Linked DNA regions of Homo sapiens. The protein of the gene in region 1 purifies or fractionates together with the protein of each later gene. This does not show direct contact. Each region holds a gene or a part of one and is shown in the gene's direction. Other genes may lie near its edges.

Region 1 (4,986 bases):
TCTCGTCTCAGCCTCCCAAAGTGCTGGGATTATAGGCGTGAGTAACCATGCTCAGCTGTTTTGTTTGCTTTTTTTTTTTTTTTTTTTTTCTTTGAGAAAGAGTCTTGCTCTGTCACCCAGGCTGGAGTGCAGTGGCGCTATCTTGACTCACTGCAAGCTCCGCCTCCCAGGTTCACACCATTCTCCTGCCTCAGCCTCCTGAGTAGCTGGGAGTACAGGTGCCTGCCACCACAGCCAGCTAATTTTTGCATTTTAGTAGAGATGGGGTTTCACCATCTTAGCCAGGCTGGTCTCGAACTCCTGATCTCAGGTGATCTGCCCACCTCGGCCTCCCAAATTGCTGGGATTACAGGTGTGAGCCACCGCGCCTGGCCATTGTTTTGCTTTCTGAGACAGGGGCTCACTCTGTCACCCAGGCTGGAGTGCAGTGGCACAATCGCAGCTTACTGCAGCCTTGACTTCCCAGTCTCAGGTGATCCTCCCACCTCAGCCTCCCGGTAGCTGGGACTACAGGCGTGCACTACCATGCCTGGGTAATTTTTTCTCTCTTTTTGTTTTTCTTTGTAAAGATGGGGTTTTGTATATTGCCCGGGCTGGTCTCAAACTCCTGGGCTCAAGTGATCCTCCCACTTCAGCCTCCTGAGTAGCTGGGCACACACCAATATGCCCGGCTGGGGTTTCTATTCTTCATTTCCGCACTATATGTGAGATGAAGGCAGTCCACGTGTGCACATAGTAAGTCAACAAAAACACCTTGAAAAGCCCTGGGTGTCAGGCCCCTTCTGAGCACAGGTGGCCTAGGGATGAACTAAAAATAAACATGACTAATATTTATCAACTGTTTAAAATGGGCCAGGCATTGTTCCAAGACTTTCCACGTAGTAACTCATCTATTTCTCTTAGCATATTTACAAGGGTGCCCATTCTTTAGAGATGAGGAATCTGAGTCACTGTGGATTTAAGTCATTTGCTCAGGGTCACAGATGGATATGCAAATTAGAGAGTCTGGGGTGTGGAAGACAGTGCACAGGGTCCTGACCAGGCTAGAAAGGCCCCAGGCCCGGCATGGGTCATTTCCAAGCTGAATCCTAATGGAGCAGTGGGTAGGAGACTGTTAGGGGGAAAGTAGGCAGGTGCATCTGGTGGGGGAGACAGTCTAGGCAAAGGCCAAGAGGCAGGAGCCCGCTGGGCTCATTTTGTGAGAGCTGCAGGGGCTTGTGGGAGACGGAGAGGGGAAAGGCGTCAGAGGCTGAATGGAAGAGCGTGCTCCAGGGACGAGGGGCATGAGGTCTAAGCCCCAGGCTGCTCTTGATGTGTGATCACCCACCAGGGAGGCGAGGGAGTCAGCTGGCCTTTCTCTCAGCACCCCCTGCTCTCATCCTCTGCCCCACGTCCCGCATCCGTGCAGCAGTGGGGCGCGGCACCCGGTACCTGGGGTGCAGAGGGAGATTTCGGGGGACAAAGTGGAGTGGGCTGGGGGCTGGAGAAAGGATGGGAGGCATCTCCAGTGTCAGAGCTAGAGGCAGCGGTGAGGGAGGAAGGTGAGGGCCAGCGGGGCAGGGTTGGGAGCTGGGTTCCACTTCCTCCTCCTCCCCTTCCCGCCCTGGCCTCTGGCTTCACCAATGATCTGGTAAAGGGGAAATTCTTGAGTGTAAAGTCCAGCAGGTGGAAGGACTAGGCCTGGGACTCCTGGGTCCCCGGCAGTGTCTGGAGGCATGGCTGGGGCTGGCGGGGGCCTCGGGGTCTGGGGGAACCTGGTGCTGCTGGTAAGTGCTCCCCGCCCAGAGCGGGCTCCCAAGGCAGGGACTCCCAGGTCTGAGGGAGAAGGAGCTGGGTGCCTGCACCTCGATCTTGAGGAAGTAGGTGCTGAAGATCCCCTGGAGAAGGAAGAGGGCTTCAGGCTTGGCAGAGACTGTAGGAGAGTCTTACACCTGGGCTCTTAGATACTGTCGTGTCTGCTGCGGGGGACACCAGCTTCACCCGGGCCCTTAGACATTGTCGTGTCTGTTGTGGGGGACACCAGCTTCACCCGGGCCCTTAGACACTGTCGTGTCTGCTGCGGGGGACACTGGCTTCAGGCAACACACAGCTGTGCTCACGGACAGGAAGCAGCCCCTCCTCCCTCAAACCAAGAGTCCAGACCCCAGCCCCTCCTCCCTCAGACCCAGGAGTCCAGGCCCCCAGCCCCTCCTCCCTCAGACCCAGGAGTCCAGACCCCAGCCCCTCCTCCCTCAGACCCGGGAGTCCAGGCCCCCAGCCCTTCCTCCCTCAAACCAAGAGTCCAGGCCCCCAACCCCTCCTCCCTCAGACTCAGGAGTCCAGACCCCCAGCCCCTCTTCCCTCAGACTCAGGGGTCCAGACCCCCAGTCCCTCCTCCTTCAGGCCCAGGAGTCCAGACCCCCAGCCCCTCCTCCCTCAGACCCAGGAGTCCAGACCCCAGCCCCTCCTCCCTCAGACTCAGGAGTCCAGGCCCCCAGCCCCTCCTCCCTCAGACCCAGGAGTCCAGACCCCAGCCCCTCCTCCCTCAGACCCGGGAGTCCAGGCCCCCAGCCCTTCCTCCCTCAAACCAAGAGTCCAGGCCCCCAACCCCTCCTCCCTCAGACTCAGGAGTCCAGACCCCCAGCCCCTCTTCCCTCAGACTCAGGGGTCCAGACCCCCAGTCCCTCCTCCTTCAGGCCCAGGAGTCCAGACCCCCAGCCCCTCCTCCCTCAGACCCAGGAGTCCAGACCCCAGCCCCTCCTCCCTCAGACTCAGGAGTCCAGGCCCCCAACCTCTCCTCCCTCAAACCAGAGGTCGAGACCCCCAGCCCCTCCTCCCTCAGACCCAGGAGTCCAGACCCCCAGCCCCTCCTCCCTCAGACCCAGGAATCCAGACCCCCAGCCCCTCCTCCCTCAGACCCAGGAGTCCAGACCCCAGCCCCTCCTCCCTCAGACTCAGGAGTCCAGGCCCCCAACCTCTCCTCCCTCAAACCAGAGGTCGAGACCCCCAGCCCCTCCTCCCTCAGACCCAGGCCCCCAGGCCCCCAGGCCCTCCTCCCTCAGACCCAGGAGTCCAGACCCCAGCCCCTCCTCCCTCAGACTCAGGAGTCCAGGCCCCCAACCTCTCCTCCCTCAAACCAGAGGTCGAGACCCCCAGCCCCTCCTCCCTCAGACCCAGGAGTCCAGACCCCCAGCCCCTCCTCCCTCAGACCCAGGAATCCAGACCCCCAGCCCCTACTCCCTCAGACCCAGGAGTCCAGACCCCAGCCCCTCCTCCCTCAGACTCAGGAGTCCAGGCCCCCAACCTCTCCTCCCTCAAACCAGAGGTCGAGACCCCCAGCCCCTCCTCCCTCAGACCCAGGAATCCAGACCCCCAGCCCCTCCTCCCTCAGACTCAGGAGTCCAGGCCCCCAACCTCTCCTCCCTCAAACCAGAGGTCGAGACCCCCAGCCCCTCCTCCCTCAGACCCAGGAGTCCAGACCCCAGCCCCTCCTCCCTCAGACTCAGGAGTCCAGGCCCCCAACCTCTCCTCCCTCAAACCAGAGGTCGAGACCCCCAGCCCCTCCTCCCTCAGACCCAGGCCCCCAGGCCCCCAGGCCCTCCACCCTCAGGCCAAGGTTCCTGATCCCCAACCTTGGTTTTTTTCTCCCTTCCCAGTCTGTTCATTGCTCTCTGCCCTCGGTTTTCCAAGGACATATATTTCAGGAAATGAAATCATTAATTTTATCTCTCAGCCTTATCGGGTGGAGCCAACCCCAGCTCCCTAAGCTCTGCTCCTGCCATGCTCCCCCTTCTCTCCTCGACCCAGGAAAGACGGTCGAGGTCGTGACAGCCCAGCCTAACACCGGCCCCTCCTTCCCATGCAAGGGTGACTCATGGGGCGGGGACCAGCCGCTCCTCCCAGCCCCTCGGCCTCACTGGGCGGAGGAGTGGTTGAGAGGCTGACTCCGTTTTCTCTGGGTTCCCTCCAGGGCCTGTGCAGCTGGACAGGGGCCAGGGCGCCTGGTGAGTGACCCCTGCCTGAACTCACTGCCCACTCGAAGAGGTGGGACCGCAACTGCCGTGAGCCTCTGGGGGGTCCCCGTGGGGTCCAGTGGTCCATGGTAGGGGTTTATGAGCGCCGTTGTTTCTGGACTTGGGGCGTGAGCTCAGGGGTTGGGAGGGATTGTACTGACCTGGTTCCCTTTTTGTCAGACCTTCCTTCCCAATTCTCAGCCCCCAACCCAGGGAGGAACCTGACAGTGGAGACTCAGACCACCAGCTCCATCTCCCTGAGCTGGGAGGTCCCCGATGGCCTAGACTCACAGAACTCCAACTACTGGGTTCAGTGTACTGGAGACGGCGGCACAACAGAGACTCGAAACACAACAGCCACCAACGTCACCGTGGATGGCCTTGGACCCGGGTCATTGTATACGTGTTCTGTGTGGGTGGAGAAAGACGGAGTAAATAGCTCTGTGGGGACTGTCACTACTGCCACAGGTAAGAGGCAGCCACTGCTTTATTTTTATTTCTTTTATAAGGACAGTGGTAGGGGGTGGTTGAGAGCTGACAAAATGCGACAGGTTCTTTAGTTGGATAGAAACACAGTGGAAGCCACACGTGAGAATTTCAATTTTCTATCAGCCACATAAAAATAAGTAAAAAGAAACTGGTCAGCCTGTCTCTACAAAAAAATTAAAAAGTAGCTGTGGTGGCGTGTTCCCGTGGTCCCATCTACTCGGGAGGCTGAGGTGAGAGGATCGCTTGAGCCCGGGAGGCAGAGGTTGCAGTGAGCTCTGATTGGACCGCTGCACTCCAGCCTGGGCAACAGAGAGAAACCCTGTCTCAAAAAAAAAAAAAGAAAAGAAAACAAAAGAAAACAAAAGAAAAGAAAAACAAACTAAATTACTATGAGAGATTTTATGTAGTCCATCAGATACAATTTTTTTTTTTTTTGAGGCAGAGTCTTGCTCTGTCGCCCAGGTTGGAGTGCAGTGGCATGATCTTGGTTCACTGCAACCTTTGC
Region 2 (4,342 bases), on another chromosome or scaffold:
GCCAACGTGGTGAAACCCCGTCACTACTAAAAATACAAAAAATTAGCTGGGCGTGGGAGGCTGAGGCAGGAGAATTACTTGAGCCCTGGAGGTGGAGGTTGCAGTGAGCCTGGATTGTGCCAGCGCATTCCAGCCTGGGTGACAGAGCATGACTCTGTCTCCAAAAAAAAGAAAAAAGGAGGAGGCCCGGCACTTTGGAAGGCCAAGGAGGGTGTATCACCTGGAGTCAAGAGTTCGAGACCAGCCTGGTCAACATGGTGATACTCTATCTCTACTAAAAATACAAAAATTAGCCAGGCGTGGTGACAGGTGCCTGTAATTGCAGCTACTCAGGAGGCTGAGGCAGGAGAATTGCTTGAACCCGAGAGGCAGAGATTGCAGTTAGCTGAGATCACGCCATTGCACTCCAGCCTAGGTGACGAGAGTGATACTCTTTTAAAAAAGAAAAAAGGAAGAAATCCTCATTGCATATTCATCCATCCCTCCCATCCCTGTAACACCTGGCAACCACTGATCTTTTTACTGTTTCTACTCTAGCCTTTTCCAGAATGTCATATAGTTGGAATCATATACTATGTAATCTTTTCAGATTGGTTTCTTTCACTTAGTACTATGCATTTAAGGCTCTTTTCATGGCTTGACAGTTCATTTCTTTTTACTTTATTTTTTATCAATTAATAAGCTTTTTTTTTAGAGTGGTTTACGGTTTACAGAATAATTGATGGGAAACTATAATAGAGTCCTCAAAACCTCCTCTCCGCTGCACGCTGTTTCCTTTGTTATTTACATCTTGTATCTGTGTGGTACATTTGTGACATTGGAGAACTATTGAATTTTAATGAAGTCCAGCTCACCAGTGTTTTTTTCATGGATCTTGCTTCTCGCGTTGTGTCTAAAAAGTCATTACCAAAGCCAAGGTAACCTAGATTTTCTCGTATTTTCTAGTAGTTTTATAATTTTGTATTTTACATTTAGGTCTCTGATCCATTTTGAGTTAATTTATGTGAAGGATATAAAATCTGTGTCTAGATTTTTAATTTTTGAAGTTTTTTTGTTTGTGGATGTCCAGTTAGCACCATTTCTGAAAAGACATTCCCCAACTCCATTGAATGCCTGCCTTTGCTCCTTTGTCAAAGATCAGTTGGCTATATTTTTATGGATCTATTTCTTTTTTTTTTTTGAGACGAAGTCTCGCTCTGTCTCCCAGGCTGGAGTGCAGTGGCGCAATCTCGGCTCACTGCAACCTCTGTCAAGCAGTTCTCCGGCCTCAGCCTACCGAGTAGCTAGGATTACAGGTGTGCACCACCACACCTGGCTACTCTAGTACAGACGGGGGTTTCACCATGTTGGTCAGGCTGGTCTCGAACTCCTGACCTCGTGATCTGCCCGCCTGGGCGTCCCAAAGTGCTGGGATTACAGGCATGAGCCCCTGCGTCCGGCCTTTACGATCTGTTTCTAAGCTCTGTTATGGCTTTATTCTCTCCTCCATTGATCTCTCTCCCTTTTGTCAATACCATACCATCTTGATTACTGTAACAGATCTGTAGTAAACTGTACTACTTAGTATATATATTAAACTAAACTTTTTTTTAATTTGAGAGGGAGCCTCCTGTTGCCCAGGCTGGAGTGCAGTGTTGTGACCTCGGCTCACTGCAAACTCTGCCTTCTGGGTTCAAGTGGTTCTTCTGCCTCAGCATCCTGAGTAGCTGGGTGGGCATGTGCCACCACACCTGGTTAATTTTTGTATTTTTAGTAGAAACTGGATTTCACCATGTTGGCCAGGCTGGTCTTGAACTCCTGACCTGAAGTGATCCGCCTGCCTCAGCCTCCCAAAGTGCTGGGGTTACGGGAGTGAGACACCGCGCCCAACCATAGTAAGCATTGAAGTCTGGTAGTGTGAGTCCTTCGACTTCCTTCTTCTTTAGTATTGTGTTGGCTATTGTGGATCTTTTGCCTCTCCATAAGAGTCAGTTTGTTGATATTCACAAAAAAAACCTGTGGAATTTTGATTGGGATTGTGCTGAATTGGTAGATCAAGTTGGGAAAAACTAAAATCTTGACAGTGTTGAGCCTTCCTATCCATGAATATGGAATATCTCTTAATTTGTTTAGTTCTTTTATTTCTTTCATTGGTTATATAATTTTCCTTATATATACCTTATACCTATTTTGTTAGATTTATACCTAAGCGTTTATTTTTAAGGGGTGCTAATGTGAATGGTATTGTGTTTCAGTTTCAAATTCCAGTTCATTGCTTATTTGTAGAGAAGCAATTGACTTTCATGTACTAACCTTATGTCCTGAAATCTTGCTATAATCACTTCTTAGTTCCAGGAGTGGTTTTTTGGTTGATACTTGGAATTTCCTGCACAGATAATCATTTCATTTGCAACCAAAGACAGTTTTATTTCTTCCTTCCTGATCTGTATGCCTTTTTTTTCTTTTTTCTTTTCTAAGACCATCAGAAAGCAATGTGTTTTATTGTCTTACTGCATTAGGTAGGATTATAGTTGAAAAGGAGTGGTGAGAACTTGCCTTGTTCTTAATCTTAGTGGGAAAGCTTTGAGTTTCTCATCATGAAGTATGATGTTTGGTGGGTTTTTTGGTAGATATTCTTTATCAAATTGGGGAAATTCCCCTCTATTCCTAGTTTGCAGAATTTTATCATGAATGAAGGTTGGGTTTTGTCAGATGCTTTTTCTGTATCTGTTAATGTTATGTGATTTTCCTTCTGCAGCTTGTGGATATGATGGATCACATTAAGTCATTTTAGAATATTGAGCCCGTCTTGCGTATCTGGAATAAATCCCACTTGACTGTGATGCATAATTCTTTGTATACGATGTTAGATTGAGCTTGTTGATATTTTGTTCAGGATTTTTGCATCTCTTTTGATGAGGGACATCAATTTAGGGTGTTTTTGTGATGTCTTTGTCTGGTTTGGTATTAGGGTGATACTGGCCTTATGGAATGAGGATACTCTAGGGCCTACCAAAACCAATTACTATAGTTTTTTTGTTTTATTTTGTTTTTTTGAGACAGAGTCTCCCTCTGTCGCCTAGGCTGGAGTGCCTGGAGTACAGTGGTGCGATCTCACTGCCACCTCCATCTCCCGAATTCAAGTGATTCTCCTGTCTCAGCCTCCCAAGTAGCTGGGCTTACAGGCGCCCACCACCAGGCCTGGCTAATTTTTTTGTATTTTTAGTAGAGATGGGGTTTCGCCATGTTGTCCATACTGGCCTTGAACTCCTGGCCTCAAGTGATCTGCCCACCTCAGCTTCCCAATGTGCTGGGATTACAGGTGTGAGCCACCATGCTTGGCCTCAATTACTCTAGTTTTAATTCCTCCCCTATGATAGGTCTAGACTGTTAAGATGGTAAGAACTTGATTGCTTAGTTTTGTAAAACTGCCCTCTATTATATAATTGAAGGGATTACCTAGTTTTGTAAAACTGCCCTCTATTATATAATTGAAGGGATTACCTAGAATATTTTAACTTAAAATGTTTTGTGCTATTTTGTTTTAAAAAGCAGAGGTGTAATGGATGTGATAGTATAATGCTCCATATACATTGTAGTGGAACATAAAAACTTTTTCTTACAGATCTGGCATCAAATAAAGTCAAAATATTTTCTAAGATCAAATTAGTTCTTTTTTTTTTTTTTTTTTCCTTTAAGAGACAGGGCCTCACTGTGTCGCCCAGGCTGGAGTGCAGTAGCTATTCACAGGCATGATCATAGTGCACAGCAGCCTCAAACTCCTGATCTCCAGCGATTCTCCTGCCTCAGCCTCCTGAGGAGCTGGAACTCCAGGCTTGCCACTACCCAACCCCAGCCTGGCTCTGAAAATGTTAATTGACTGTCAGGACTGGTATTATTTAGCAACACTGCATTTGTTCCTTCGAATACAGTTATGCTGTATCCTTTACATGTAGGAGCAAAAGACTGTAGTTCCCTGCTATAGATAAGGTTAAGAATTCTTTTTTTGTTTTTTGAGATAGAGTTTTGCTCTTGTCGCCCAGGCTGGAGTGCAATGGCTCAATCTCGGCTCACTGCAACCTCCGCCTGCCAGGTTCAAGCAATTCTCCTGCCTCTGCCTCCGGAGTAGCTGGGATTACAGGTGCCTGCCACCACACCCAGCTAATTTTTCTATTTTTAGTAGAGATGGGTTTCACCATCTTGGTCAGGCTGGTCTCGAATTCCTGACCTCAGGTGATCCACCCACCTCAGCCTCCCAAAGTGCTGGGATTACAGGCGTGAGCCACTATGCCTGGCCAGGAATTCAACCGATTTTTAAAAATAGAAACCAAGCGGAATGGAAGGAGTGAGACTTGAGACTAAT
Region 3 (4,342 bases), on another chromosome or scaffold:
ACATAGACTTTCTAATTTTACTTTTAAAACAATATAGAAAATTTCTGTATTTCTAATTTTTTCCATAGTTATAATTTTAGTGATTTGATGATATTCCATCATGTTGACATACCACAGTTTATGTATTATTCACTTAGAATAAACTTTAAGGAATTTTAGTTTCTTTTTATTTGGAAAATGAGGATTAGAACAAGTTTTTCCTCTGAGTTAATTTCAACAGGTTAACTAGATTAATAAATATACCATTTCTGTAATTCCTGGTACTTTGTCCTAGTTTCCTTCAAATCATTTGTGTCAGTTTGTAGTATCAACAACAGTGTATTACTTTGCCATTTTTGTCACTAATATTGAGTATTTAAATCTTTTCGTTTGTTTGTTTTTATTTTTTTAATTGACAAAGGTATATATATTTTTCATTTACAACATGTTTTGAAATATGTATATATTGTAATGGTCAAATGAGCTAATTAGCATATTCATTATCTCACATACTTTTTGTGGTGAGAATACCTAAAATCCACTCTTTTTGTAATTTTTAAAAATAACAATATATTGATATTAACTATAGTCTATGTTGTACAATAGATCTCTTGGTCAGTTTTTTAAAAGCTGTAAACAGAAGTTTAATAGAAAGCAAATCTATCCACCATCTCATTACCTTAAGGAATATTTGTTGACTGCCTGTTTGGTGACTATGTTAGAAATACTGCTAAATGTTTGCAAGCTATTTGTTTAATTTTATACCAGTCTTAGTAGGTAGGTTTCATTATTGTTCCCATTTCCAGGTAAGAAAACTGAGGCCTGAGTGCTTCAGTTTATGTCCTGATAAGTAGGCCAAGTCAGGATTTGAACACAGGTCTGATTCCAGAGCCTTGTTTTTAATCCTGCTTCAAAAAAATCGTATGTATTCTTTTGGTATTATTCATACAAATGTTTCATATTTTTATAGACTTCAAATAATTATTTTAGTAGCTATATTCTTTCATTGTGATAAAATACTTACTTTATTGAGTCATTCCATATTCCATAGTGAATATTTGGGCTCTCTAGGTTTTTATTAATTACATGATGCTTCATTGATAACTTTTCTGCATATATACTTTTGCTTTTGTGGAATTATTTACTTCAAGTAAATTCCAAGAAGGGAATATATAGATTATTTTGGGGTCTTGCATATGCCTTGTAACAGATGTACCAGTTTTATTATAATATCCCTTTGAATTTTGTAGGGTAGCCTTAGAAAAGTGTTTGGATTGATTGCTACAAAGAGGAAAATAAACATCTTCTTTCTTGATTATATGTTAATATAATTTAATGTTTCTGAGTTTTCTCTGGCTGTATCACCCTTATTAGTGACTCTACGTTAACATTTTAAAATTACTTAACCATTCTATTTTTTTCTCCCTGTGGCACATCCATATTATGCAAGATTATACTTTTAAAAATCAAGATGCAAAATAAGTCTAGCATGACTTAAAAATGTATGCATAAAAGCTAAAGACTGAAATTATCTGTTTGTTCCTGGACAATTATATAATTTTTAAATTTCTACTTTAATTTTTAAGGGCTACAAGGCAGGTTATTTTATAATCAAATTTTTTTAACACAGCTGATAAACATTTAATATGGAAATAAAATACACAAAATCACAGCTAAAGGATAAGTTGTAAAGAAACAAAAATTTCTCTGTCTCTCTACTTCTCTAATGAAAATGATATTTTTAACAGGTAAAATAACATAGCTTCCCAATTTTCTATTGTCACTTTTTCTTTTTAAACAGAGATGCTGTTCAGTTAAATGTGATTGCAACGCGACAGCTTATTCTCCTTGCACAACAAATGAAGAATCTGGAAGTGTTCATGCATGTATCAACAGCATATGCCTACTGTAATCGCAAGCATATTGATGAAGTAGTCTATCCACCACCTGTGGATCCCAAGAAGCTGATTGATTCTTTAGAGTATGTTTGTTTGAAATTTATATACATTTACTTTGATCCCAAAAGAGGCCAAGGCGGGCGGATCATGAGGTCAGGAGTTCAAGAGCAGCCAGGCCAACATAGTGAAACCCCATCTCACTAAAAATACGAAAAAAATTAGCCAGGCATGGTGGCAGGCGCCTGTAGTCCCAGCTACTTAGGAGGCTGAAGCAGGAGAGTTGCTTGAATCCCAGAGGTTGCAGTGAGCCGAGATGGCGCCACTGCACTCCAACCTGGGCAACACAGTGAAACTCTGTCTCAAAAAAACAAAAAACAAAAAAAAAACCTTTGGATTCAAGTCCCTCCCTCTTCTCCTCACCCCACCCCATATACATGTGCGCGCGCGCGCGCACACACACACACACACACACACACACACATACATTTATCTCTTTTCTTCAAAAATTTTTGCATATCCCCTGCATTCTTATTGTATAGATTAATATCTAAATAAATGTTAATGAAGTCAATGTGTAGTTTTCACTTTTGACCAAGTATAATGGTAATATTTGGAGGAAGGCTCCTGAACATCTTATTAGTGATATTAGGGGCTCTCTTTTTCAGGGAATCAATCTTAGCAACCAAGAAGTACCAATGGAGACCCATGACTGCCTGTTTAATAGCAAGGCTCTAATTTATCAAAGGATTCCCCTCACCACCCCCCAGCCATGGAGTATATATATAGAGGGGCCTTTAATTATTAGAGAATCAGAGGAATCATAGTCTTTTAATTCATAACCTTACTTTTTATCTTTCTGAGGACTGAGATCCTGTCAGCAATTGTTACATGAAAATTATTTGTGAGTATTGATAGATAGGGATTAAATGAGGGAGTATATACCATGACCTTATTCTCATTTGCTGCAGCTCAGGCTTTCTCATCAAACAGACAAGGTTCAGACAAGAAAAAGAGAGATCTTTTTTACTTTTACAATTATATAAACATTCCAGTATCCACCATATTTTCATGTTTGTTAATCCTTATATAATATCTTTGAATTTTTTCCTCCTTTATTCTTCCCTCTTTTAGTCTTCTTTCTTTCCAGAGATTCTATCCACTTTGACTGCTTAGTTAACATCTGCTGCTTTCTCCTAAAATAAGCACAGTCTTTTCTTTAAGGCTTTCCTGCTAATATGAGGAAACAGATAGATTGTAAAAAAAATGAGAAATTACCAAGACATTTTCATTGTAATTCCCTAATTTCTATTTTCTCACTCATTTTCTTAGATGGTCCCAAATATCTACTTCATTTTCTTCATAGATCAATAAACAGAAATATTTAATATCTGCGGGAAAAGTTGAGTGTGAAAGTTAATGGAGCATTTTACTTTTTCTCTTACTAACAATATATACAAACATTTGAGAAACTGAAAAAGAACTTGTAAGCTAATGCTGTATCTCCTTTCCTTGCTGCAAAGAAATCTAGCTAACATAATTTTAAGATAACTCATGGGTTTGTTCTGTAAACTCGTTCTAGTAATAAGGCTTACTAGCTAAAGTTTCTCCTGAGTTTAGGCAGGTTTTTTTTTCCTCATGTATCAACTATCCCTTTCATTTTTCAAATCTCATCTCCATGGTGGAATTTTTCCTAAGTTGGGTAGCAATTTCCCTTCAATTTAATTGATGTTCTTTTCCTTTCATATACAAAAAGTACTTCCATATACAGAAGAAAATTTTATCTTGATAATCTCTGTTTTATGCTTTCTTATCAATTAGTATGGGTATCATTAGAGTATGACAATATACTGAGTCTACTTGCATACACAGCATTATTGACAAGAAGTAAAAACAAGTACATAATGTATTAGAATCAGAAGTTTAGGAAAAACCATGGACACCACCTAGTATATCGCCCTCCTTTTACAGATGAACAGAGTAGACCATTTCTTCAAAGAGAACTGGAGGAATTTTTTTGACTTCATAGTAGGTTGCTAATTGAATTTTTATAGCATGCTTCAATTTATTTTTATTGTTCATCATAGCATTTGTTAATCTCATTAGAGCATATGATTTGCAGTGCTGCACCTTAAATACTAGGCCTTTTATGCCTTTTGTGTTCATTATAAATGTATGTTAATTATAACTGTATATAATTAACATGTTACTTCATTAGGTGGTTATATACAGATCTGTATTTCCTAACCTGCAAACTTCCAGAAGGTTTCAGATATATTTTGGAATTTATTTGGACTTTAGAGAGGGTATATAATTTATGTACTGTGTAATAAGAAAAAACTTTAACTTGATCTGGGTTAGTATCCCTGATCAAATACATGTAAAATATATGAATGTTTAAGTTGTATCAAAAAAAAGACCATAAGTCAGTGTAGATCAGATTTTGCTATCCACTGTATGATTTATGA
Region 4 (4,342 bases), on another chromosome or scaffold:
TGCACTCCAGCCTGGGTGACAGAGCGCGACTCTTGTCTCTAAAAAAAAAAAAAAAAAAAAAAAAAAAGAGTAATTTGCTATCGTTTAAGTAAAGAAGGAATACATTTTTATGTTAACCTTTCCGCTAGTGGTAGAAGAGTTAAAATGAGAAAAATAACATGTATAGAGATATCTTAATGATTTTCTTATCTTTTTAATGATCTATTCCAAAACTCCAAAAAAAAGCCCACACCAGATAAAGAAATTTCGGAAAAGGAAAAAGAAAAGTATCAGGAGGAATTTGAGCACTTTCAACAAGAATTGGATAAAAAAAAAGAGGAATTCCAGAAGGGCCACCCCGACCTCCAAGGGCAGCCTGGTGAGTTGTAGCAAAGCTGACATGGGTGCCGCAGCAGGGCTTGAGGCTGTTGATCATGGACGCTTGAGTCTCTGTGTTGCCTAGCTCATCCCTGCTCTCTGAACAGGCACATTCCAAGTGATTTCTGGAAACAATTTAGGAGCAAATCTTTAGTCTTTAAGAGTCAAGAGATTGGCATTTTTACCAGTGAGAATGTGGCTTAGTCATGTATGAAATAAAGAGTACCATGGTTATTTGGAGGAATGGGACCGCTAGAGTGAAAGCTCCATGAGGACAGGGATTTTGTTAATATTCATTGCTGTGACCACTAAGCCTAAAAATAAATCCAAAACAATGCTAACCTAGTAGTTCAGGTTCAGTAAATATTTTTTGACTGAAATCATCAAAAGTGTATATTTTTGGTTTTAGTGACACATAATTACCTTATAGTGTGGAGATAATCCTTAAAATCTATCAAAACTGTTGTGAAAGTAATGTGACATATCTGCTTCTCCTCCCCATACTACTCGATAGAATCCTGGACTGTATACTTGAAAATTATAAAATACTAGTCTAACCCAATGTTATTAAGAACGTGAGTGTGCTAATGTCAAAAATAAAACATTTTAAGGCCAAATTGAGGGAATTTATATTATCTGCTAGCTTTTTATCTGAATTGTTCCCAGTCAGCATAAGTGATCAAAGGTGTACTTAATAAAGGCTGTGGCTAGCATTTGAACTCTATGTAGTATGCAGTTCTCTTAATGATCAACAGTATGAGTCAGACTTAATGAATTTAAAAATGAAACATAAAGGTCATTCTTATTTTGAATTTGTTTTAAACATCATCACATAAAATTTGTGAGTATATCCTGAAGCTGACTTTAGTGTTTGAAAAGTATTGTTTAGTAAATTTTGACAAATGTGTATACCCATTTAACCATCACCCCGATCAGTACACGGAACATTTTTATCATCCCAGAAAGTTCCCTCATGCCTCCTTAAAGTCAACAACCTTCTCCACAGAGCCCATCACTATTCTTATTGTTATCACTGTAGATTAGTTCTGCCTATTCTTATAAGTAGAATCACACAGTGTAATGAAAGAGAAATATTTTTCCATTTTAATTTTATTTAACTTTTTATGTATTTAGGAAGAGTACAAGTGCAGATTTCTTATATGCTTGTGTCATATAGTGGTGAAGTCTGGGGTTTTAGTGTACTCTCACCCTAATGAACCTGGTACTCAGTGGGTAATTTTCAACCTTCATTCCCCTCCCACCTTTTGTAGTCTCCAGTGTCCGTTATTCCACTCCATTTGTCCATGTGTACCCATTGTTTAGCTTTTACTTATAAGTGAGAATGTATGGTATTTGACTTTCTAAGTCATTTCACTTGGGATAATCACTTCCAGTTCCATCCATGTTGCTGCAAAAGACATAATTTCATTCTTATTTTATGGCTGAGTAGTAGTCTATAGTATATACATACATATATACACACACACACGCCACATTTTCTTTATCAAGTTCTCTGTTGATGGGCATTTAGGTTGATTCCATATCTTTGCTATTGTAAATAGGGCTGCAATAAACGTATAAGTGCAAGTATCTTTTTGATATAATGATTTCTTTCCCTTTGGGTAAACACCCAGTAGTGGGATTGCTGGATCAAACGGTAATTCTAATTTTAGTTCTTTGAGAATTCTCCATACTGTTTTCCATGAAGGTTGTACTAATTTACATTCCCACCAACAGCATATAAGCATTCCCTCTTCTCCACATCTTGACAACATCTGTTGTCTTTTGACTTTTTAATAATGGCCATTGTGACTTGTGTAAGATAGTATCTCATTGTGGTTTTAATTTGGATTTTTTTGATGATTAGTGATGTTGAGCATTTCTTCATTTATTTGTTGGCCACTTGCGTGTCTTCTTTTGAAAAATGTCTGTTCATGCTCTTTGCCCAGTTTTTTAATGGGCTTTTTGTTTTTCTCTTGAGTTGTTTGAGTTCCTTGTAGATTCTGGATATTAGCCCTTCGTTGGATGCATAGTTTGCAAATATTTTTTCCCATTCTGTAGGTTAGATTATTGTGTTGATTGTTTCTTTTGCTGTGTAGAAGCTTTTTAGTTTAAGTCCCATTTGTCTATTTTTGTTTTTCTTGTGTTTGCCTTTGAGGACTTGGTCTAAGTTCTTTACCTAGGCCAATATGCAGAAGAGTCTTTCCTCAGTTTTCTTTTAGGATTTGTATGGTTTCATGTGTTATGTTTAGGTCTTTAATCCATCTTGAGTTAATTTTTGCATATGGTGAGAAGTATGGGTCCACTTGCATTCTTCTATATATAGCTATTCAATTTTTTCTGCACCGTTTATTGAATAGGATGTCCTTTCCCCAGTGTTTATTTTTGTTGACTTTGTTGAGGATCAGTTGATTGTAGGTATGTGGGTTTATTTCCTGGTCCTCTGTTCTGTTCCACTGACTTATGTGTCTGTTTTTATACCAGTATTATGCTGGTTTGGTTACTTTAGCCTTGTAGTATAATTTGAAGTCAGGTAATGTGATGCCTCCAGATTTATTCCTTTTGCTTAGCATTGCTTTGGCTATTTGGGCTCCCTTTTTTTTCCATATGAGTTTTAGGATTTTTTTTTTCTAATTCTGTGAAAAATGACATTGGTAATTTGATTGGGAGTGTCTAGAACTAGTAGATAGTTTTGGGCAGTATGGTCATTTTAACAATATTGATTCTTCCAATTCATGAGCATGGGATACTTTTCCATTTGTTTGTGTCATCTACCATTTCTCTCATCGTTGTTTTGAAGTTCTCCTTATGGAGAGCTTTCCCCTTCTTGGTTAAATATATTTCTAGGTGTTTTTTTTTTTTTTTAGCTGTTGTAAATGGAATTGCCTTCTAGATTTGGTCTGCTAGATCATTATCAGTATATGAAAATGCTACCGATTTCTGTACATTAATTTTTTATCTTGAAACATTACTGAATTCATTTATCAAATCTAAGAGTTTTTTGGTGGAGTCATTAGGATTTTTGAGATATAAGATCATATCATTAGCAAACAGGGATAATGTTACTTACTCATTTCCAGTTTGGATGCCTTTTATTTTTTTCTCTTGCCTGATTGCTCTGGTGAAGACTTCTAGTATTATGTTATTACACGTAAGAGTGATAAAAGTGGCATCCTTGTCTTGTTCCAGTTCTTAAAGGGAATGTTTTCAACTTTTCCCTGTTAAGTGTGAGGTTGGCTGTGGGTTTGTCATATGTGGCCTAATGTTGAGGTGTGTTCATTGAGGATTTTTATCATGAAGGGATGATGAATTTTATTGAATGTCCTTTCTGAGTCTGTTGAAATGATCATGTGTTTTGTTCTTAATTCTGTTTATGTGGTGTATCATATATATGGATTTTTATATGTTGAACCCTCCTTGCATCCCTGGGATAAATCCCACCTTGATCGTGCTGTATTATCTTTTTGATGTGCTGTAGGATTCATTTTGCTGGTATTCTGTAGAGGATTTTTGCATCTTTGTTCATCAGGGATATGGGTCTGTAGTTTTCTATTTTTTTGTGTCCTTGTCTGGTTTTGGTATCAGGGTGATACCGCCCTCATAGGATGAGTTAGGGGGAATTCTCTCCTCAGTGTTTTGGAATAATTTCAGGAGAATTGGTTCTTCTTGATATGTTTGATAGAATTCAGCTATAAGTCCATCTAGTCCCGGCTGTTGTTAAGAGATTTTTTTTTTTACTACTGATTCAGTCTTGCTACTCATTATTGATCTGTTCAGGAGTTCTGTTTCTTCCTGTTTCAGTCTCAGAAAGTTGTGTGTTTCCAGGAACTTATCCATTTCCTCTAGGTTTTCTAGTTTGTGAGCATATAGGTGTTCAAATAGTTTCTGACGATCTTTTGTGTATTTGTGGAATCTGTTGTAATGTCTCCTTCTTTTCTGATTGTGTTTATTTGGATCGTCTCTCTTCTTTTCTTGCCTAGTCTAG
Region 5 (4,161 bases), on another chromosome or scaffold:
CCCACCCAAAAAAAGCGCCTCGTTTTTACAAGCTCCCTGAGACCTCAAGAATAATGTCTGCCATATATTCCATTTGAACTTTTTTGCTAAATTCACCAGTTTTCATACATAAAGCTTATACCATAGGAGGTGTCAAGTTTCCCAGAAGTTGTGTAATAGGCACAAATGATCAAAATTACTGCCCTAGGAGCTCTCTACTATTACCTCATCTGTCCCCTTTATCCATCCTTGCTTTGCTTCTTATCAGAAGGAAAAATAAAATAAAATTATTTAGCTTACAAAGTAGCTCTGTTACAGCCAAACAGCGCTATCCACTGACAATCTCATGGCTCACTGTCTTCCATCATGTCATAAGCTCAGCTGTCTGAAGGTGTTGGTTTCTTCATCTCTACTGTTTCTGGTTTTTCCTCCCTCATTTTCTGCTTTCTGACCAGCAGCTGCAAAATGTCTTGGGGAAAAAGTAGACCAACCTGGATCTTGGGGAAATACAGATGAAGATTTTTCTGTTTGGCTTTTGCCTCATATTTATTTGGCACTTCAGACCTGATGAAGGCTTTTATGTATCTGTGCCTTATTTGAGCCTCGAAACTCTGATTTTATAATAGAAGGGTATTCATTCAACAAGTATGTACTGATTACCTGCTATATGCCAGACACTGTTCTAGGTGCTGGAGATACACAGGAAACAAAATAAGATTTAAAAAGAGGAAGAACCGGCAGCCCAACTCGCGAAACTCTCCTTTTAGCTGGGAGCATCTGCCAGTAAAGGGGCCGGGACAGATCTCGTAGCGCCTGGTAGGTGATTGGAGGAATTTTGGCTTTTACTTTGAGTGAGATGGGAGGCCAGCGGAATGCGTGGAGCAGAGGGTAGTCTCATTTTAGAGATTAGGAAAATAAGAGGCTACCCCACAGTAAGTGCACCAGTTGCGTTTAAAGAAAAAAAATGTATATTAACAGGAGGTAGCCACTGATTTGGGGCCACTAGTCCAGAGATTCGAAATGAAGCGGGAGGAGACACGTTAAGATTAATCTACAGGGAAACAAATTATTTACACCGAAATACAATTTAACACAAACATACGCAAAGAGATATGCCAAGGAGTACTCGGGGGCTCTGTTCAGGCACTTGTTAATGAAAACGAAGCGAATCTTGACGCCTTAAACCCTGTCTAGCCTACTTGATTCCGGGGGTGGGGCTGTGGGAATCGCTGCCCACCCGGAATCCCGCCTGCCCCGAGCATGGCCAAGCCCCAGCCCCGCCCCGCCGACGGCCTGCCGCCGGGGTTGGCCGCGGCGGTGGCGGAGGCCACGGTACCCGGAAGTGCGGCTGACGTGTCCCGGCAGCGCTCGGAATTGTGGGCGACTCGGCTAATGGCGTCGGCGAGTCTTAGGGGCCTGGGGAGCTGGCGCTGAAGCTTCTTGCCAGGTTGGCTGGTGACACCCGGTGTGGCTGGGCCCCGCGGCAGCGGAGGGACCTGCCCGCCTTGTGGGTTTCTCGGCCAGAGTCGGCGGAGCCTAGCGGGACGGTGCGACTGCGGGGGGCGCCTCCGAGAAAAGCCAGAGGTGTTGCGGGGAAGCTGCTGGGGGACGCTCGAGCAGGCTCCGGGTTCGCAGCCCAGGGCCCAAGAAGCGGGCTGCTGAAGGACCAGAGACACCGGGAGGGAGCTGCCTGTGGCCCTAAGGAGCTGACCGTGCCAGAGCTTGTTTGTACCTCTCGGAAATTGGCTGGGACCTTGGAGGATCATGTCCGGCACCAGCAGCCCCGAGGCGGTGAAGAAGCTGCTGGAGAATATGCAGAGCGACTTGCGCGCCTTGTCACTGGAGTGCAAGAAGAAATTCCCACCTGTCAAAGAGGTAAGCTTCAGGTGACGTCAGGAGAAGGCACTGTGAGCATGCCTGGTCCTGTTAGACTCAGTGCTTCACCCCAGTTTCCAGTCCTAATTTTCATTCAGGCCTCACCTTTCCAGATTTGTGAGTCGGTGGGTTGTTCCACAAGGGCTTTTTATAGTTTCCACTGGAGAGGGCTGAGGCACTTTGATTTTCTCCCCTCTCCTGTCCTCCCAGTTTAGGAGTGAAGTTCATGAAGTGAGCCTATTCAGTTAATCCAGCTAGGTGTACTGTGCACTAGCCTATTCTGGCCTTTTTCTTACTTGAAACTGGCCAAACCAAAATTGAAAAACTTGTTTGTTGCTCCCCGAAACGAGTATCCACCCATCTTGTTGAAACCTGTACTCCTCACGTTTATGGCATATCACTGAATTGGAAACAATTTTCCTTCTGGTATATATCATTCAGCTTAACTCTGTATCAATCCTTTGACGTGTTAATAAACTATCCAGAGCCACCTAATTTATGAAGAATATTGAAGATCCACATAATCATGTTAAACCTTGTTATGAGCAGTACTGTAGTGGGAAGTTGGGCTTGCAGTCAGAGCGAATACACCTGAATTTAGTTCCAGCAATAAATCTTAACCTCTTTGAGCTTCGGGTTTTTTTTTCCAGCTGTAAAATAGGGTTAAAGGATGGTTTTATATTATGTATGGGAAAGATGTCAGAGCAGAAGGGTATTATTAAAGAGATCCCAGTAAATAATACATGGAAATTTAATTCTCCAAATAGTTCTTGAGGTGAAATATTTAACATTTGGTTACTATTTGCTTTTTCTCTTAAAATGCCATTTTAATTCTCTAAAAAAAAAAAACAAACAAAAAAACCCACCAAAAACAGGCCCGGCTAATTTTGTATTTTTAGTAGAAACAGGGTTTCTCCATGTTGGTCAGGCGGGTCTCGAACTCCCGACTTCAGATGATCCCCCTGCCTCGGCCTCCCAAAGTGCTGGGATTACAGGCGTGAGCCACAGCGCCCGGCTGTTTTTATTTTTATTCCTATTTAATGTAGTTTGTTTTACCTGCAATTTCATTTACTCTTTGCCCTAAAAATTCACCGAGGGATTTCATATTTACATACTTATTTAAATATATCTTTATTATTATGAAGATTATGTAATTAGAACTTGACCAATAAATTTTGGATTTTAGGCTTGTAAGGAATATTGACTTTTCTGTAAGTGCATTGGTTTTATCAGTTTTCAACAAACTCCATCTTGTATTTCTTTAATAAAGTATTACCCAGTGATGGAAACCAGATGTGCCACTTTTGGAAAGATGGCTGTTACGATATGTTTTATTTCACATAGTCAATAGTCTGTTTTGATATTGATTTTCATTTTTTTTATATCCTCTGTTGAAAGTTATAACAAGTAAATCTAAAGAATTAGGCTGTTTTAGAGAATTTTAAAGAATTAAGTTGTTTTAATTATAAGAGAAATGCTCTCATTTAGAAAATATCAAACACTATTTTGTAATTTCAACAATAATTTGTAGAACTGACTTCGCAGTTCTAATAATTCATACAAAAACTGTGGTTCCTCTATAGGCTGTTGTGGTCTAGCTTGGGAATTTAATTGCCATTTATTACATTTTTTTGTTTTGTTTTTTGATTTTGGAAATGGGGTCTCTGTGGCCCAGGCTGGAGTGCAGTGGTGCGATCTGCAACCTCGAACTCCCTGGCTCAGGTGATTCTCCCACCTCAGCCCCCTGAGTTGCAGCGACTACAAGTGCATACCACCACGACAGGCTAATTTTTCGCCTTTTTTTTTTTTTTTTTTGTAGAGACGGGGTTTTGGCAGGCTGGTCTCCTGAACTGGGTTCAAGCGATCTGCCCACCTCTGGCTCCCAAAGTGCTGGGATTACAGGTGTGAACCACCATGCCCAGCCAGAAGCTGCTGGAGGATCCCTTGAGCCCAGGCGGTCAAGGCTGCAGTGAGTGGTGATTGTGCCACTGTACTCCAGCCTGGGAGACAGAAGGAGACCCTGTCTCAAAACAAACTAACAAAAAAGCTTATTGGTTTTTACTTGAACACTGGCTAGAGAGATATTTTGTAATTGCACCTAGTCTTTGAGATAATAGCAAAAGTAATTCTTGTGATTATCTCTGATGCATAATTTTGTATATGGTACGTGTTTATAAGAATTTGTTGAATGAAAGCTTTTTGATTTCTTACCCAATGACACTGGGCACTACTTTAGGAATTGAAAAATGATCTTGACTGTGTCATAGGTTTAAAACAAAGAGAGTCATTAGCCTAATTATGATGAAG
Region 6 (4,342 bases), on another chromosome or scaffold:
AGGGATGTGGCATTTAAGATAGATTTTGGTATGAAATGAGAACTTCGAGGTGGGGAAACCACAGCAGAGGAAAGGAGATGAGAATATGCAGGTCATACTGGGGAGGGGAATATCTGGTTGTATAGTTCAGCTGAATAGTGATGGGCTTTTGTGGCACACAGGCCATATACAGCTTTCTTCTTGCCACAGTACACTCAGTTACCTGATTTCATTGAAAAGGTTAGAAATCTGTTTCAACCCTGGCTTGCTGGGTAGTAGATAGATGGTTTAGGAGAGAATTTTTTTTAGTCAAAACTGATCAGGCATTGACTCTTTCTCTGCAACTAACTAGCTTCTGGATATGGGGCAGATTTTTCCCTTACTTCCATTTTTCTCATCTGAGAAAGCGGGTGATGACCACCAACTCTGTGGCACTTAAATGAAGTAATGCATACCAACTGTCTAGTGTGAAGCCTGGTGGACAGTAAACATACAGCAAGTGTTCCCACAGTAATATTTGCATTTTGTTGTGGAGACTTTTTAAATGTTGGGCTGAGCAGTTAAAATTGAAGTAAGCCAGATAATGCAAATGAGGTATTTTTTTCTTCAAGTAGTAGAATCATCAAAGCTGTGATTAAAGATAATTCTTGCATCAGGGAACAAGGTGGGTTAGAGGGAAAAAAAAAATCAACTAGAGACATATCAGTTAAAAGGCTATTGCTATTACAATAGCTGTAGCTTTGTAGCTTGAAGTAAGAACCAGAAGAAAGTAGTAGCAGGAGAAATAAAAAGGAGTGGACACATTGAGGAGGCTGTTCAGAGGAGAAATGTATAGGACTTAGGAGCTAATAGTAGAGAGATGATCAGGAAAAATAAGTATTAAGGTGAAATTTTAGACTTACATCAAAATGATTAGGGTAATGTTGATGCACATTACATGGGCAGTGAAGAGGCAGCTTCCAGTCTTTCATCCATTAAGGTTTAGGTACTGATAAAACATCTGGGTAGAATTTTTCAGCAGTGATGGAAAGCTTTGAAAAACAAAACAGAAGATGTGGATTTGGGAATTACCTCCCTAGAAGCAGGAAGAGATGGCATCATCAAGGGAGAGGAGTATAGAGAGGCATTATGAAAAACAAACTTTAAATAGGTATATAGTATGATTTTTATTCATTATGTAATGAAAGAAAAGGTAGTAGTGTCACTGAAAATAACTTTTGGCATTAACTCTCATTCTGATAGAATGCTTATTTTAACAATAAGTTATTTTTTTTCTTTCATGGTTAAAACAATATAGGTGATGAAACAACATCTCAGGTAAGGGGTTGACTACGCTTGGCTTTTTACCTTAAAAGAAGAAAACATTTGTGATTTTGGTATTATTTCAAACTAATGTCTGATTCTGTACCAAAATGGTGAAGTATATAGTTTATTCTCCTTTGCCACCCAGGGATTCTTTATGAAAGTTTGAAAGCACTGCATTTCCAAAAGACAAGGTTTAGAGAAGTTCTAGAGTAATTGATAAATGGAGAACTGTCAAATGAGAACCATACATATTAGTTCTGTTTTGTAAAAGGGAGGGTGAAAAGTGAATTTAAGTCTATAAAAATGAATTATATGTAATTCTCTAAATTCCAGATATCAGATCCCATGATTTCTAGGCCTGCCAGTTCACTTAAATGGCATTAACCATTATTTTTTTAAATTATTGATGTTTGGATTCAACATTTCCTTTTAGGTGTTTCAAAATCTTGAGTGCTAATGGTGAGGCAAAAGTATTCAGACCAAGGGACCGTGATGATATTGTAAAAACTGTGATTGAACCGATGGCATCAGAAGGCTTGAGAACCATATGTCTTGCATTCAGAGATTTTCCAGCAGGAGAACCAGAACCAGAGTGGGATAATGAAAATGATATTGTCACCGGCCTTACATGCATTGCTGTTGTGGGGATTGAAGATCCTGTGAGACCTGAGGTGGTGAAACATTCTGTGTTCTGCATGTGCAGAATCTCATAACTATAGAGGACCTAGGCCTTAATTGTAACCAGTTTTCTAGTAAAATTCTTGGTGTTTGTGATTTTTTTTTTTTCTGTGTGAACCCAAGATAAATGAAATAATAGTACCTACAGTGCATATGCTAGCTTTTATGGTTTTTAAAGACAGTGTCTCTTTGGGATCCTATGTGTTCATAGCACCATAACCTAGCACAGTGCCTTGAAGTGGGTAGAATTTTCAGTTATTATTTATCTTAAATTAAATAATAGGTGCCATTATTTGTTTTCACAGTCTCTAGACTAGCATTGTCTAGTAGAGCTTTCTGTGATAATAGGAATGTTCTGTATATTGTTTAGTACAGTAGCCACTAGCCATGTGTGAATACTGACTTCTAGTTTTCAGTGGCTAGTGCAACTAAAAGACAGGATTTTTAAATTTTATTTAATTCAAATTAAAATATCTTGCTAGTAGTTGTCATATTGGATGGCATGCAGCTCTAGACTGATTTCCCTCTTTAATTTTTTTTTGCTATTTGGTTTTTCACCTTTTTTAAGTTTGTTGAACAACTACTGTGTGCCAGGCACTATCCTAAGGTACTAGAGACTTAAGAGTTTTGAGATCTGATCACCGGCCTCAAAGAAGTTACTGTCTTATGTGGGACGAACCAAACACGTGATTATTGCAACCCAAGATATTACTACCTTGCTGGGTATATACAGAGCATGTTATATGAGCAGAGAACACGAGTTCCCAACCTAGCCTAATAGCATCTTTTTATTGAGTTCTCACTGTGTGCCATATACTTAAGCCATGTGTTTTACAAGTAATTTTTTTAAATGTCTACCTTTATGAGGTATGCATATTATTACTCTTATTTGGCAGATTTTTAAGAATCAAAAATGTATAGAGCGTTAGACATGTTTAAAAATACATTTTTAAAAAATCGAGAATGTATAGAGCATAGACCTAGTGTGTTAAAATACCAGCTTTGTCTAAAACACATGTGCTTAAAAGACTACTGTACTGTATTGACCACTGGAGGGGTCAGGTAAGACTTCCTAGAGGTTAATTACCTGATCTGATTCTTAAAGAAGGAGGAAGTATTATCTAAACCAAGAAAGAGAGCGAGCAGTTAGGTATATTCTGAGCAAAGAAGCAACATAAATAAAAGCACTAACAGAAAACCACTTTTGTTCAGTGACTTTATCAGCTAATTGATTCAAAACCTAATGTGTAGCACTCTTTTAGGAGCTGGAAATACTGCAGTGACCAGAATAGGCTTGAGATTTATATTCTAGAGGAAGAAGACAGCTAAGTAGGTAGAATGATAGATACATGGACACCATGTCAAGTGAAAAATGAATTCTGGGAGGAATAAGACTTGGTCCCTGTTCTCATAGGCCTTAAGATATTCTGGGTGGCAGGGTGGCATATCAGGGGGGATGATATTAAATAAGACAATTACAAGTGCAGAAGGGCTATATAAGATATGCACGGTGTAATGAAATAAAGTAATGGAGAGAGACTGCATTAAGAATTTCTGAGGATGTGGCATTTGAGTTGCAATCTGATGGTTCATAGTGGGTCTGCCATGTAAATAGCTGCAAGAAGAGCATTCCAAGCAAAACGAGAAATGCAAGTGAAAGTGAGAAAAGTAGCTATTTTAAAGGTGGAAAAGAGGCCAGTGTGGCTATAAATGTAAAGAAGAAAGGGGAGACGAGATGATCTCTGGCCTTACTGGGCTGTGAGGACTCTGAATTTTCTGAAATTCAGGCTGGGAAGTGACATGATTTATGTTGTTAAAATACTATTTTGGGTACGTGTAAGACAGGGATTAGAGATGAAGAAGAGTAGAAGCAGGGAAGCTAATGAGATTATTGCAGTGATCCCAGGCAAGAGATGATCATGGCTTGGCCCACAGTTGTGGCATAGGAGATGGAAAGAAAAGAATGATTTCAAAGTAAGTGGAGATAGAACCAGTAGGAAGTAATATGTTGGGTTTGGATACGCTGTTTTTGACATTGTTGAGGTGTCTGAGACATCCAAATGTATGTCAAGCATTTGGACCTCAGAGCCTGAAAGTGGGCTAGTCTGAAGAAATCACTGATGAAACTAAAGATATTTAGAGAAAGTGTGTAGCTAGGGAAGAAGGCTTTTATGACTAAGAGGTTGCCACAATTAGAAGTCTTATAAAGGAGATGGTCGCTAACCATCTCTGTACAAGTTAGAGAACCAGTCTGTAACTTGGTGGCTGATAGAGGGTTACCAATGTAATAAGAGAACCAGAAACAGCAGCCTGTTGAGAGATTAAGATAAATTTGGTTTGGGGTTTTGTAATTTCAAATGCTTATAAAATAGCCAGGTGG
Region 7 (4,342 bases), on another chromosome or scaffold:
TTTTGAGAGATTCATGTATCTGTGGAGATTTTTATCTCCATATGCATATGAGACACAGCAAGGTCTTGATTGGCCAAAATGAATAGGACTAATGATCCGTCAGAAATTCAAAGGCTTAGTATTAATTACTTCTCAACAGCTGGCTGTATTTATAGTACTGCTTGGCATAAGTTCCTGAGTAAGGAAATTGCAGATTTAGAAGTGTCCCTAAATAATTTACCCTCCCATCCCCAGGGTAGTAGCTACAGGAAAAAAAAAAAAATCTAGTTCACAGCTTTCGTGCTGAAGCCAGGACTGATTCCTATTACAACAGGAATTTTATTTGGTCCTCACAGCATGTTTGTTTGTTTGTTTGTTTGTTTGTTTGTTTGTTTTTAATAGTTATCAACATTTCAAGACCAAGAAATTCTTAGGGTAAACTGACAGGCAGTGCCAGACTTCCTGAACTTCTTGTACGGAATGACATCTATTCCTGGTCTTCAGAGCAGTACTCTCCTTGGAATGTTCTGCAGTAATGGAAATGTTGTTATTTCCATCGCGACAGCCACTAGCCACATGTGGCTATTGAACATTCTAAATGTGGCTAGCATGACTAAGATTGAATTTTAAATTGTGTTTACTTTTAATTAACTTATATTACTGTAGACATTTATGGTTAGAGGGTATCATACTGGACACTGCACTTCTAGATGAACCAGGCAGGTTGCAGGAGTAGTAATTCAAAGTACTATACATCTGGATGTGTAGATTTTCTTCTATGTTTTCTTCTAGTTGTTTTACAGTTTCTGGTCTTAAGTCTAAGTCTTTAGTCCATTTTGAGTTGACTTTTGTATATAGTATAAAATGAGGTTCAAATTTCATTCTTCTGCTTGTGGATATACATAATAGTCATACTTACGAATATGACATTTAGTAACACCATTTATTAAATATAAAATAATTCTAAACTCTAGATCAGTTTAGAGCAGATTTTTACAATTAAGTTCAATCAAAATTTAAATCTCATTCAAGTTTTTTCTGGTCTAGAAGAGAAGATGAAGGGAAGGAAGCATGTCTCCACTCTATTTTTTGCTTAGCAGACAGCACAAAAGGAAATGTAATGTGATATTCAAATTTAAGCCCAAGAATACACTTGGCTAAAACCGGCTTTTGTCACATTTTAAAGTAGATGCATATTCTTTGATAAAAAGATGAAAGAAAATATTAAAAAGATGAAACTGCCTACATCATTCTTTGTCAAAACTCGAACAATTTTGGCTGTTATGTTAGAAGTCAGTAGAAATGTTTTTTCTCATTAAGTGTCCTTCAGAGAATAGAATCATATTTGGGAATGAATTTATTAATGGATACAACTGTACTCTTTCCTCCCAAACCTGATTCTCCAACAGAGGGGTTTGCCATCTCAGTGGATGGCACCATTTTCCATTTAGCTGTTGAAGTTAGTCATCGGGAGGCATTTTGACATCTTCTTCTCCGCCATCCCCCACCAGGTTCTGCTGATTTTACTTTCTAGACAGGTATCTTTCCAGTTCATTCTGACAAGATCTGTATTGCACCACCCACCCTGTGTCTCGCTCCTACTCCTGAAGCATCCTCCTAACTGTTCCTCCTGCATCCACTGTTTCATACACTCCCTTGCAAACCTTACAGTGCAGTTATGGTGAACTTTTAACAAAACAAATCTAAGTATATTCTTCCCACGCTTAAAATGGGTGCATTTCAAATGAAACTCCAAATCCTAACTGGCCTGCTAGACTCTGTGTAATCTAGCTTCTGCCTGCCTCTCTAGCTTTGAGAAGAGCTGTCTTCCTTAGGATTAGGCCTACCAGGACATGGCAATACATCTAAAATAACAGTGGCTTTAACAGAACCGAAGTTTATTTTTCTCTTATGTAAGTAGGCAATCCATGGACTGGTGTGGCAGCTTCACAGTCCTCCAGGATTAGGTGGCTTTGATCTTTGAAACTTTACCACCCTCAGCACAGAGCTTCCAACTCATGGTCCTTAGACGATGACTGCTCTAGCTGCACCATCACATCTGTATTCCAGCCAGGAAGAAAGTAGAAAAGGAAATAAATCGCCAGTGCCTTCCCTTCAAGAACATTTTCCAAAGTTGCCTCCACTACTCCCACTGCATCCTGTTGTTCAGAACTTCGCCACATAGCCATACCCGGCTGTGAAGAAAATTGTTCTTAGCAGCCTGTGCCCAGCTAAAATCCAGGGCATTATTGTTGAGAGAAAGGCAAGATACATTTGGAAAACCACTTACTCTCCATCACAAGAGCTAACTCCTCATTTTCTAGAGTAGAATATGAGTCAGAAATATCTGACATAGAAAACTTAACAGATAGCACATAAGCATATTATTAGAAATAGACAGATACTAGAGAAAATGGCTGAAACTGATGAAAATGGTTGCCTCTGGAAGGCAGGAACACAGTAAACCAGAGGACTGGTGTTTTGCATATTAAATCTTTCAGTACTGTATAATTTTTTCCATGAAGAACATATATATTTTGATAAACATTGCATTTGAAGGCATTTCTAGGCATTGACTGAAGCCAGGCCCACAAGTATGTATTAGGACTGGGTGAATTTTCCCTGCAAAGCCCGTGAAGTTGTGTTTTTATTTCCCACCTTGCCAACCATCCCTGAGTCTTTGGTATTGATTCAAAGGTGGTGGTGTATGCATGGTTATTGTCAACAGTTGAGGACCATAAAGATCAGGTTTAAGACATTTGGCCACAAGCAGTCCTCCCTTTTTTCTGTCATTAGGACACATTCTATTATTTTCTATTATATAAAATACTGATGAGGTATTAAATGTCTGTGACATAATACATTTTGTCTTATTTTCCTGACCTGGGCTGATTTATAATAAGCATGTGCAGGAAACTTTTTCTAATTGGCAGCAGCACTCACCACTTAAAGTCCTTTTCCACCATGGATGTTCTGTGACAGGGAATGTAGACACAGTAAACTATCATCTGCAGAAGATTGCTTATCAAAATCCACAGACCCAGAGGCCCAAATGAGAGGTAGGGGAGAACTGGAACATGAGATTGTGGAATCCCAGAAACTAGAAAGATAATTCTCTGCCTATCAAAAAGAAAGTTTTAATCCAAATGTACTCTTGTGAGACTTGAGAAATGATTACCTGTTTTTCATGAGAAATACACCAAATCTTACAATTGCAAGCCTTAATAGGTTTTGTTTGTTAAATAGTTAAGCCAAGAGGAATTGTTGCTAATGAGAGACAAAGATCTGAAAGAAAAACAATCACTGGGCTTGTGTTTAATCACTTTTTATTTTCTCAGATCTCCATCATGTCATTATCTGGCTTTGGTGCTTACATAACTTAACTAGGAGAGTTCAGGCAGCAATGGGAATAGGAGGGCAAAATGAAAGGTTAACAATTTAAATGGATCACCTGCAGATGCGTGATATGGATGGAGATGAAGCCTATTAAGGACCTAATTTTAGAAGAAGCTCTTGACATCAATCATTTGTGAAAAGGGTTTTTTTTTTTTTCTTACCTACACACAAGGTTTTGTACACTTGTCTACAAACCTTAAGCATTGATGCATCTGATCATCAGCTTGTGGGATTACTAACACCAAGCCACTTTGAAAGAGCAGTCAAGGTTATTAACTTTGGCAGGAAATGAAAATTTGGCCTTAATATACATGTGAAATTGAATTGTCTGTAGCACAAAGCTTTGGAGATTACCCATGCAAAATGAGAAAACTATCTAAATTTAAAATTGTCCTCAGTACAGGGAAAGTAATTTTGCAGACAGCATTTTTACTGCATTGAAATCCGTGAAGATTGGCTCTATTAATTTAAATTTAAACAGAGGTTCTGTGTCTTCTAAAAATCGCAAATGAGATGGAAAATGTACTTCAAGGGAAAAAATGGGTTTCTGGATATGCTGCAGGCAGGCAGGCAGGCTTCCTACTCCACATCTTTGAGTCTGCCCTGAGACCAGTTAGCTTCAGAGGGAAGGCTCTTTCCACTGTGACAGGCATTTGAAATAAGGACATGCAGACAATGCCTCTATTACATATTTCAGGCTTCAAGAGTAGGGTAAGAAACTGATCAAGTAGAGCCCAAGGCAAAAGTCATTGGTGGCTTTTACATTACATTTACCAAAGTAGGTGGGCCCTCGACAGAAAAAAATCTAGGGGTTGAATATTTTTTCTCAGCTATCAAATAACTTTCTTATAATCCCTGCCTGGAAGGATACTGGGGCAGGGGATTTGGTTACATTAACTACCTTTTCACAAAAAAAAAAAAAAAAACACACACACACACAAAACAAACTTTTACGTAAAGAGAAATT

What was found.
Region 2: the proteins of PTPRH (region 1) and UBE3C purify together in Homo sapiens (affinity purification with mass spectrometry, with the first as the bait; one large-scale study listed by BioGRID). This does not show direct contact.
Region 3: the proteins of PTPRH (region 1) and FAR1 purify together in Homo sapiens (affinity purification with mass spectrometry, with the first as the bait; one large-scale study listed by BioGRID). This does not show direct contact.
Region 4: the proteins of PTPRH (region 1) and LMAN1 purify together in Homo sapiens (affinity purification with mass spectrometry, with the first as the bait; one large-scale study listed by BioGRID). This does not show direct contact.
Region 5: the proteins of PTPRH (region 1) and MON2 purify together in Homo sapiens (affinity purification with mass spectrometry, with the first as the bait; one large-scale study listed by BioGRID). This does not show direct contact.
Region 6: the proteins of PTPRH (region 1) and ATP2B1 purify together in Homo sapiens (affinity purification with mass spectrometry, with the first as the bait; one large-scale study listed by BioGRID). This does not show direct contact.
Region 7: the proteins of PTPRH (region 1) and LANCL1 purify together in Homo sapiens (affinity purification with mass spectrometry; one large-scale study listed by BioGRID and IntAct). This does not show direct contact.

Annotation. Positions count from the first base shown.
Region 1 is NC_000019.10:55,206,163-55,211,148, reverse strand, and holds the start of PTPRH (receptor-type tyrosine-protein phosphatase H isoform 1 precursor), read left to right. Parts: upstream 1-1,647; 5' UTR 1,648-1,715; coding exon 1,716-1,766; intron 1,767-3,734; exon of another isoform or gene 3,735-3,853; coding exon of another isoform or gene 3,854-3,949; coding exon 3,950-3,983; exon of another isoform or gene 3,984-4,081; intron 4,082-4,172; coding exon of another isoform or gene 4,173-4,193; coding exon 4,194-4,460; intron 4,461-4,986. UniProt on the Homo sapiens protein: Protein phosphatase that may contribute to contact inhibition of cell growth and motility by mediating the dephosphorylation of focal adhesion-associated substrates and thus negatively regulating integrin-promoted signaling processes.
Region 2 is NC_000007.14:157,145,080-157,149,421, forward strand, and holds part of UBE3C (ubiquitin-protein ligase E3C), read left to right. Parts: intron 1-4,342. UniProt on the Homo sapiens protein: E3 ubiquitin-protein ligase that specifically catalyzes 'Lys-29'- and 'Lys-48'-linked polyubiquitin chains.
Region 3 is NC_000011.10:13,706,120-13,710,461, forward strand, and holds part of FAR1 (fatty acyl-CoA reductase 1), read left to right. Parts: intron 1-1,780; coding exon 1,781-1,960; intron 1,961-4,342. UniProt on the Homo sapiens protein: Catalyzes the reduction of saturated and unsaturated C16 or C18 fatty acyl-CoA to fatty alcohols. It plays an essential role in the production of ether lipids/plasmalogens which synthesis requires fatty alcohols.
Region 4 is NC_000018.10:59,341,935-59,346,276, reverse strand, and holds part of LMAN1 (protein ERGIC-53 precursor), read left to right. Parts: intron 1-225; coding exon 226-358; intron 359-4,342. UniProt on the Homo sapiens protein: Mannose-specific lectin. May recognize sugar residues of glycoproteins, glycolipids, or glycosylphosphatidyl inositol anchors and may be involved in the sorting or recycling of proteins, lipids, or both.
Region 5 is NC_000012.12:62,465,465-62,469,625, forward strand, and holds the start of MON2 (protein MON2 homolog), read left to right. Parts: upstream 1-1,361; 5' UTR 1,362-1,743; coding exon 1,744-1,854; intron 1,855-4,161. UniProt on the Homo sapiens protein: Plays a role in regulating membrane trafficking of cargo proteins. Together with ATP9A and DOP1B, regulates SNX3 retromer-mediated endosomal sorting of WLS away from lysosomal degradation.
Region 6 is NC_000012.12:89,614,415-89,618,756, reverse strand, and holds part of ATP2B1 (plasma membrane calcium-transporting ATPase 1), read left to right. Parts: intron 1-1,717; coding exon 1,718-1,955; intron 1,956-4,342. UniProt on the Homo sapiens protein: Catalyzes the hydrolysis of ATP coupled with the transport of calcium from the cytoplasm to the extracellular space thereby maintaining intracellular calcium homeostasis.
Region 7 is NC_000002.12:210,455,770-210,460,111, reverse strand, and holds part of LANCL1 (glutathione S-transferase LANCL1), read left to right. Parts: intron 1-4,342. UniProt on the Homo sapiens protein: Functions as a glutathione transferase. Catalyzes conjugation of the glutathione (GSH) to artificial substrates 1-chloro-2,4-dinitrobenzene (CDNB) and p-nitrophenyl acetate.